2 linked regions of the Homo sapiens genome follow. The protein of the gene in region 2 purifies or fractionates together with the protein of the main gene of each other region. This does not show direct contact. Each region holds a gene or a part of one and is shown on either strand. Other genes may lie near its edges.

Region 1 (3,653 bases), on a different chromosome or scaffold from region 2:
AATCGAGACCATCCTGGCCAACATGGTGAAACCTTGTCTCTACTGAATATACAAAAATTAGCTGGGCATGGTGGCGTGCACCTGTAGTCCCAGCTACTCGGGAGGCTGAGGCAAGAAGAATTGCTTGAACCTGGGAGACAGAGGTTGCAGTGGGCCAAGATCGCGCCACTGCACTCCAGTCTGGCGACAGAGTGAGATTCTGTTTCAAAAAAAACAAAAAAAATGATGACTGCCTAGTTTTAGTTGACACTGGACATAAATACATGAAGAATTAAATACTGATGTAGTGAGAACATTTATTCTAACCTCCAATATTTGGAAAATTAGCAGTATAGATTTAAGATTGAGTTAGGGTGAATTAAAGATGTAGAATGTATTCATTGACTTTGAACAGTTGGTTTTATTTTATGCTTATTCTAGTGTCTTTCTTTAAACATGTATATTAGGATTGTTGTTGTTGTTACTTAGGGTTTTCTTGAGGGAGAAATAGAGTGAAACATAAGCATTGATTTCTTATGAAAGATGTCAGTGAAAATCATCATAAATGTATCCAGAGGCCAACATGGAAAACCAACTCATTTGTTTAAACTCTAAAAAAGTGGCTATGTAAAAACATAATTATTGTTAAAAAAAATGTAAAAATGTATATTTCAACTGATTATCTTTAACATTGGACAGAATATCGGGCTTATACTATGATCACATCATTAAATATTTTGAAATGGTTATTTATAATATTTTGTAAAGATTGCATTTAGATAATTTATTCTTTGTCCAATTTACTTTTATTAGGCAAGTCTTGCAGAAATCCACAGCAATATGTGGGTAAGAAATGGTCTGCAAATCAAAGGACAAGCCATGACGTATGTCCAGTCTCATTTCTGTAATTCCATGATTGATCCTGACATTTACCTGTTACAGGTAAGCCAGCTAGATAATGCAGATATACTTTAGAAGTGTCTCATTTGTACCCAAGGGATTTTAATTTATAGAGGTGACTGCGTGATGACATGGAGAGGCCAATGCCATTGAAAGAATAATTTTTTACTTACATTTCCCAGGAGAAGAGGCATACCACCCAACACAAGGCTACAAGGAAAGCACCAGATTTTGGTCAAGAGGCAGAAAGGAGTGAGGGGAGAGCCTAGGCCAGAGCCTTTATTGGGGTTTCTGCAGGAAAGGCAAGGAAAGGCAAGGCAGGATTGGCTAATTTGAATAATTCCAGCAGGCTTTGAGGCATAGGGGCTGTATCTGGCTCTGCGGTACCTGGCCCTGGGTTGATTTAGGGGAGGGGAAATACTGGGTTGATGTGTGAGAGTTAGATAAAGACAGTGGTTGGCTTGCATGACAGGCATTTTCCCAAGTAAGTTGTTTAGTATGTTCAGGAATTAACTGGCTCTGGGAGGGACTATCTGTCTTCAGGTCTGTAATGCCCCTCAAGATGTCAAAACATCATAATATACAGAAAATAAAAATCATAGCCAGGCGTGGTGGCTCATGCCTGTTATCCCAGCACTCTGGGAGGCCAAGGCAGGCAGATCACTTGAGGCCAGGAGTTTGAGACCAGCCTGGCCAACACGTCGAAACCCTGTCTCTACTAAAAATACAAAAATTAGGCAGGTGTGGTGGCACACACCTGTAAATCCCAGCTACTCGGGAGACTGGGGGATGAGAATTGCTTGAGCCTGGGAGGCAGAGGTGGAGGTTGCAGTGAGCTGAGGTTGCACCAGCTTGGGTGAGAGTGAGACTCTGTCTCAAAAACAAAAAACAAAAAACAAAAAACAAAAAAAAGTATAGAAAAACATGATTAATAGAAGAAGGAAAACTGAATATTGAGAAATAAAGCATTTTGTTTTCTTTTAAAGGTTTGTGCTTCTAGACTTGACCCAGATTATTTTATTTCATCCGTCTTTGAAAGGTAGGCATAATTTTATTAAGACAGGTATTAGGAAGTGTCCAGTTAATTTTGTTTTAATTTATAAAAATATGTTTCAAATATTTCTTCTTGTAGATTTAAGGTAGTGGATTTGTTGACAATGGCATCACAACATCAAAATACAGTACTTGATGCAGAGCATGAGAGGTCGATGTTAGAAGGCGCTCTTACATTTCTTGTGATTCTTTTGAGTCTTCGTTTACATTTAGGTAAAACTCACTGATACTAATACTTATGCATTAACTGTTTTCCTCCCTTTCTCCCCCTCCCTGTGGTAGTAACTGGCTTAGGGAAAAAAGGAAAGGATGTAGATAAATGTAAACAATGTTTCAAACTCTTGATATGTTGTACTGTAGGTATACCTTTTAGAATATCCTTTGCTTAAGGGAACTGCAAACAGCAGTTAAACTGCAGTTATGTTTGGAGCATAGCTTCTTTACTCTTTAATTTGAAGCATCTTATATTTGGTAAAACAGCTTAGTAAAAAGTGTGGTAAGTTTTTTTCTTTATAATTTATGTATACTCAGATTTGTTAATTCCGTTTTTAATAATTTTAGGAATGTCTGATGATGAGATTCTCAGGGCCGAGATGGTAGCCCAGCTGTGTATGAATGACAGGACACACAGTTCATTGCTGGACCTCATATCCTTTTAAAATTTTACTTTCTGTTAGTTGCAGGATCTAAAATAAGTATTTTTTATGATTAATAGTTTATCAATTTTTTGATTAATTTTTTTTCAAAGTTGAAAAATAATATAGAAAAAGAAGAACACCAGTTGTGTGCTCAAGTATGTATTCAAGCCTGGTGACTGTTTTTTTTTTTTTTTAACCTCCTGTTATTACCTCTTGGGGAACTCTTCTTAGACTTTAGGGTAGATTTCAGGACTGAATGATGGCTTTGGCCACCCCAGCATTTAACCTCCTAGTGGACAGCATTACTGAACGTTTTATAAAAGGCAGCTAGGTCCATTTTGTCTGTGTAGCCAGGATGCAATTCATGGTTAACAGTTAAAGGTATACCTTACGATTATTATTACCAGGATTTTAAACATTTTGAGGGTTTTTCTGTAGAATTTGGTCTTAAAGGATTTTTGAATTTATAGATTTTTGTGTACAAACAGGGAACCTGTGGTTCTTTGTATAGGACTGAACATACAATGAGAATCTGATTATCTTTTTAAGTTAATGTTAATAAAATTTTACACAAAGATTATCAAGTAATTTTGTGATAAAAATTCTGGCCGAATTTAGTATTTGTATATCTTATGACTATGTTTGGAAGAATTGGCTAAACTTTTTATTTTGTGAAATAAGTCCTATTAGAATGCCTGTTTGACAACCTTGATTTTTGTAAGCAGCCTCAATTTGATACTGTCTGATGATTTCCTTCAGTCATTATGAACTATGTGTCAGTGCTATTATAGAGTAAAAACGATCTCTGTGTCTTTCAATTTTAAAGATTTATGTGCTTTAATGTGAGGAGAGAATCTTTTTGGTTTGCCTCTTTGCTTATATTTGCTTAGTATTTTTTTCTTTGGGGATGAAATTTTGTGTTTTTGGAAAAACAATCTTTGCTCATAAAAATCTTGGCTAATTTTTCACAAGTTCTTTCTGTTTTTTAAGGAAAAGTTATTTACAAAATGGTAAAAATGAAGACACATTTTTAAAAGTTTTTCTATCGTTTTCTGAAATTTGATAAATTTATTTCGGGGAAAA
Region 2 (3,753 bases):
GTCCAGTGTACTAAATAATTTTCCTAATTAGCTTGGACTTGAGAGGACTTAGAGCTGGTAATCTATGTATGAAAGAAATAAGCAATGCTGTAACTTTAAAGTGATCTTTTGGCCCAATCATCATATTTTTTTAGGCATGAAAGACACCTGGGTAATACTCAGGAATTCTTGGTAGATATGTGAAAAAGCAAGCTCTGCAGCCCTTGAGGCTAGGCCTCTTTATGACTCCCTACATGATTTCTTCTCTAGAAGAGGGCACAAAAGATAATGGTCCAGTCAAATACACAGCAAATCAAACACTCTAAATTTTCCAGATGTGATCTCATGTATGCATATTATATTGCTAGTCACTTTTACATGTTACCTCAGTGAGTCACCCAAGCCTCCTTGCCCTCATGAGTTAAATCTCATAATCGGCATGCAAAAGATGGCAAAACAAAGGTCTCTGCCCATTGAATCAGTCTTTTAGACTCTCTCTCTCTATATATATATATATGTATGTGTGTGTGTGTGTGTGTGTGTATATATATATATATACTCTGAGTATGTGTATACATATATATACTCTGAGTATACTCAGAGTATATATATACATGTGTGTGTATATATATGTATATGTATATGTGTGTATATACAAATATAGAGACAGAGAGAGTCTAAAATACTGATTCAATGGGCAGAGACCTTCATTTTGTCATATACTCTGAGTATATATATAAATATATATATACATATATACACTCTGCAACACGTCAATGGATAATTTATATATATATACACATATATATATATTCATCCCAGTTAAAGAACAATTTCAAAGCATTCTCTCTCAGATTATGATGTAAAAGCCCACAAATCAATTTCAACTGCTGGCCAAGACCAGCTAAATTACTCACCAGAAGATAACACCAAATGTATCAAGATAAAGGACAAAAGTGAGAATACTGGGAAAGATTTGGCCATTTTTCCTCCTGGTGTGTCCTTGGAATGATGCTCTGAAATATTGTCTCAGGTTGTTGCCCTCTAATACAATCACTAAAGTAGAGACAATCAGGATTTAAGATGACTTTTACAATGAAGAGCCATCTCTACTCCACCCATTGTATCCTCAGTACTATGTATTTGGAAAGCCTATTCCATTCTTCTTCAGAAACAAATGTTTAAAAAGTTAAACCTTGAATAACTATCTTGATTAAAAGTATAGAGCTCAGTAACAGATCTTTGAATACTCAGAAGTAAATCATAGGTTACTCTGTGGGCATAAGTGTATTATTTTAGTGGGAAAACATTTTACATGTCATGAAAAAGCAACTCCTTACCTGAAGCTTCACCTAAATTTATCTTTTGAGGGGATGCAAAAAAAAAGATGGGGCTATTGAGGTCCCTAGACAACATGAACTTCTCAATAAGTGGAGTGGATCTGTACTTGCTCGTCAAGCAAAGAATACCTCTTTGGATTAAGACAAAGATTTCTGATGATTCAGGCATGCTTGTCTATACCAAGGATCTTCTGATGTTGAATCCCAGACTCTTTGAGGACATTCACAGGGAGAAAAATCATTATCTGCCATCTCACTGGGGTCCCACAGCTATTTTAATCCAGACACAGAAAGGGAAAAGTCAGAGAGCAAATCCTCCCTCGGGATGGACTTTCCTTGTAGCAACATTTCTGACCCCAGAGAATGGAAACTGCAGTTTCCAGGGCCTGACCAAGGACCACATTTAACTGTTCCTCCATTCCTAATTCTAGAAAAGTAGCCTGGTCTTCCATATGTTCTCTAGGCTTTTATCTCTGTCTGCAACACATGTCAATGGATAATTTATATAAACTCTGCTGATGTGCTCTGATGTGGCAGGTGTTACTTAAGACATTAAAATGTAGCCAGAGTATTCTACTCTCAGGATGATTGCAAGTTCTTTGTACACTATGAAAGGTTGCCTACCATGCCTACTCCTGGCACAATCTGGGACACCATGTTTTGCTAAACACACCCCCATCTCATCCTGATATTTTCCCTGGCTTCCTCCAGAAATGGAACAGGAACAGTACAAGTTCAGCTGCAGCCAGAAAACTAGAGCAAAACACAGAGGCCCACTCTCTCCATCCCTCATGTCACAGCTGACCCACCTCAGAAAGAAGAGAAAAGGAAGAGGAATATAATGTGCTCCTTCTAAGAAGCATGTATTAGGGCCCCAGGAGGAAATAGAGTAACTGCTGCGTAGGACAGAAAAGTCACTGAGGCATTGTGTGCTGGACTGAGCAGGCCCTGGAGATCCATCATTCAGATTGCATCAAACCTCAGCAGGGGAAGACCTGAGGAGGGTAAGAAGAGATCACTGGAAAGGGCAGCCATTAGCAGGCAATTCAAGAGAGGCAATAGCATGAGAAAACATCCCACAGTAGGAAAGAGCAAGCAGAAAGAATATAACATGTTCCACAACAATAATTAGTATCAAGACCAGGACCAGTATTAGGACCAGAATGAAAACATGTGTGGAAACATCTAATAAAGAAAAGGCTGGTACAGGAGGTTGCAGTGACAGATGAGATCCTTGGATACCATTTGCAGTAGATCCAGCCTTGTGCCTGTAGTAACCCAGAGCCTTTGCCATTTTAACAGGGAAGATATATTATTATAGCTTAAGGTCCTCCTATTATCTGAACTTCTGGCCTCTACCATTCCTTCTGTAAAAAGCTATTTTTCTTATACAAAGAAAATATATGCTCACTTAGAAAATTTATAAAATAGAAATATACAAAAAAGAGAGGGAGGCGGAGCAAGTAGAAACATACAAATAGAAATGGCCAAATAGAAATATGAAAAAAAAGAAACATACAAAATGAAATAAAATATATAAAACAAAAAATATACAAATGAAATAAAAAGGTGTGAAATCTTACAACTCAGAGGTACCTATTAAATATATATAAAATTATATTCTTCCAGTTTAAATATATATACATAATCACACAGGTACATATGTTTTATTACAATATTCAACTTTTATAATATATATTGTTTTTTCACTTAGAAATGCACTATTACATTTTCTTGATCTCTAAATATATTGAACATGAATTTAGATGCCTGGTGTCATATTCCATCACATATGTGGATTTTAATTATACTAATATTCTTTAATTGTTGCTCAATTAGGGTGATGCCAATTTTTTATTGTTATTAATAGTGCTAGCATAGGCAGATTTTTATTTACCTCAGTTAACTTGTCTTTTAATATTTTATTTTAATAAATGCCTGTAAATAAACCCATTGAAAACTTCCAGAAAGAACTTAGGTCACCTAGAATATGAGAGAGGTGGTGGTTTTCATCACATTTCTGGGCTCCATACTTGTAATTCTGGGCTCCATACTTACAAGAAATATTTTGAAAACAACCTGCTATCTTCCTGAGTAGATCATTTGTTCCCCAGTTTGGAAAGGTAGATGCATCCTGTTGTTTAGAAAGGATTCTGAACGCAGAATCAGAACATCAATTTATAATGTTTTGTCAACTTGGAAAGTAATTTATTCTATCTGGACCACAGAATTTTCCATTTTGCGCTATTGGGTAATCACACATTCCATCAAGTGCTCTTTGGAGGTTTAATTGAACAAACACTTAAACAGCTTTGAAAACTGAGCCAGATAAGCCACCAATAAATGCTATTTTAATTTGGCTTCTTCTCAGCCACTATATGGATGTGAGTGTTGTAAATTCAGAGCCACGGACTCATTTTATGGCATTCAAAAA

The links. Proteins that work in one complex are often made in the same cells at the same time.
Region 1: the proteins of SPINK14 (region 2) and UBR3 purify together in Homo sapiens (affinity purification with mass spectrometry; one large-scale study listed by BioGRID and IntAct). This does not show direct contact.

Annotation. Positions count from the first base shown.
Region 1 is NC_000002.12:169,924,827-169,928,479, forward strand, and holds part of UBR3 (E3 ubiquitin-protein ligase UBR3), read left to right. Parts: intron 1-792; coding exon 793-921; intron 922-1,865; coding exon 1,866-1,918; intron 1,919-2,011; coding exon 2,012-2,145; intron 2,146-2,493; coding exon 2,494-2,579; intron 2,580-3,653. UniProt on the Homo sapiens protein: E3 ubiquitin-protein ligase which is a component of the N-end rule pathway. Does not bind to proteins bearing specific N-terminal residues that are destabilizing according to the N-end rule, leading to their ubiquitination and subsequent degradation.
Region 2 is NC_000005.10:148,166,943-148,170,695, reverse strand, and holds the start of SPINK14 (serine protease inhibitor Kazal-type 14 precursor), read right to left. Parts: upstream 2,151-3,753; 5' UTR 2,129-2,150; intron 1,252-2,128; exon of another isoform or gene 1,036-1,251; 5' UTR 964-1,035; coding exon 897-963; intron 1-896. UniProt on the Homo sapiens protein: May be a serine protease inhibitor.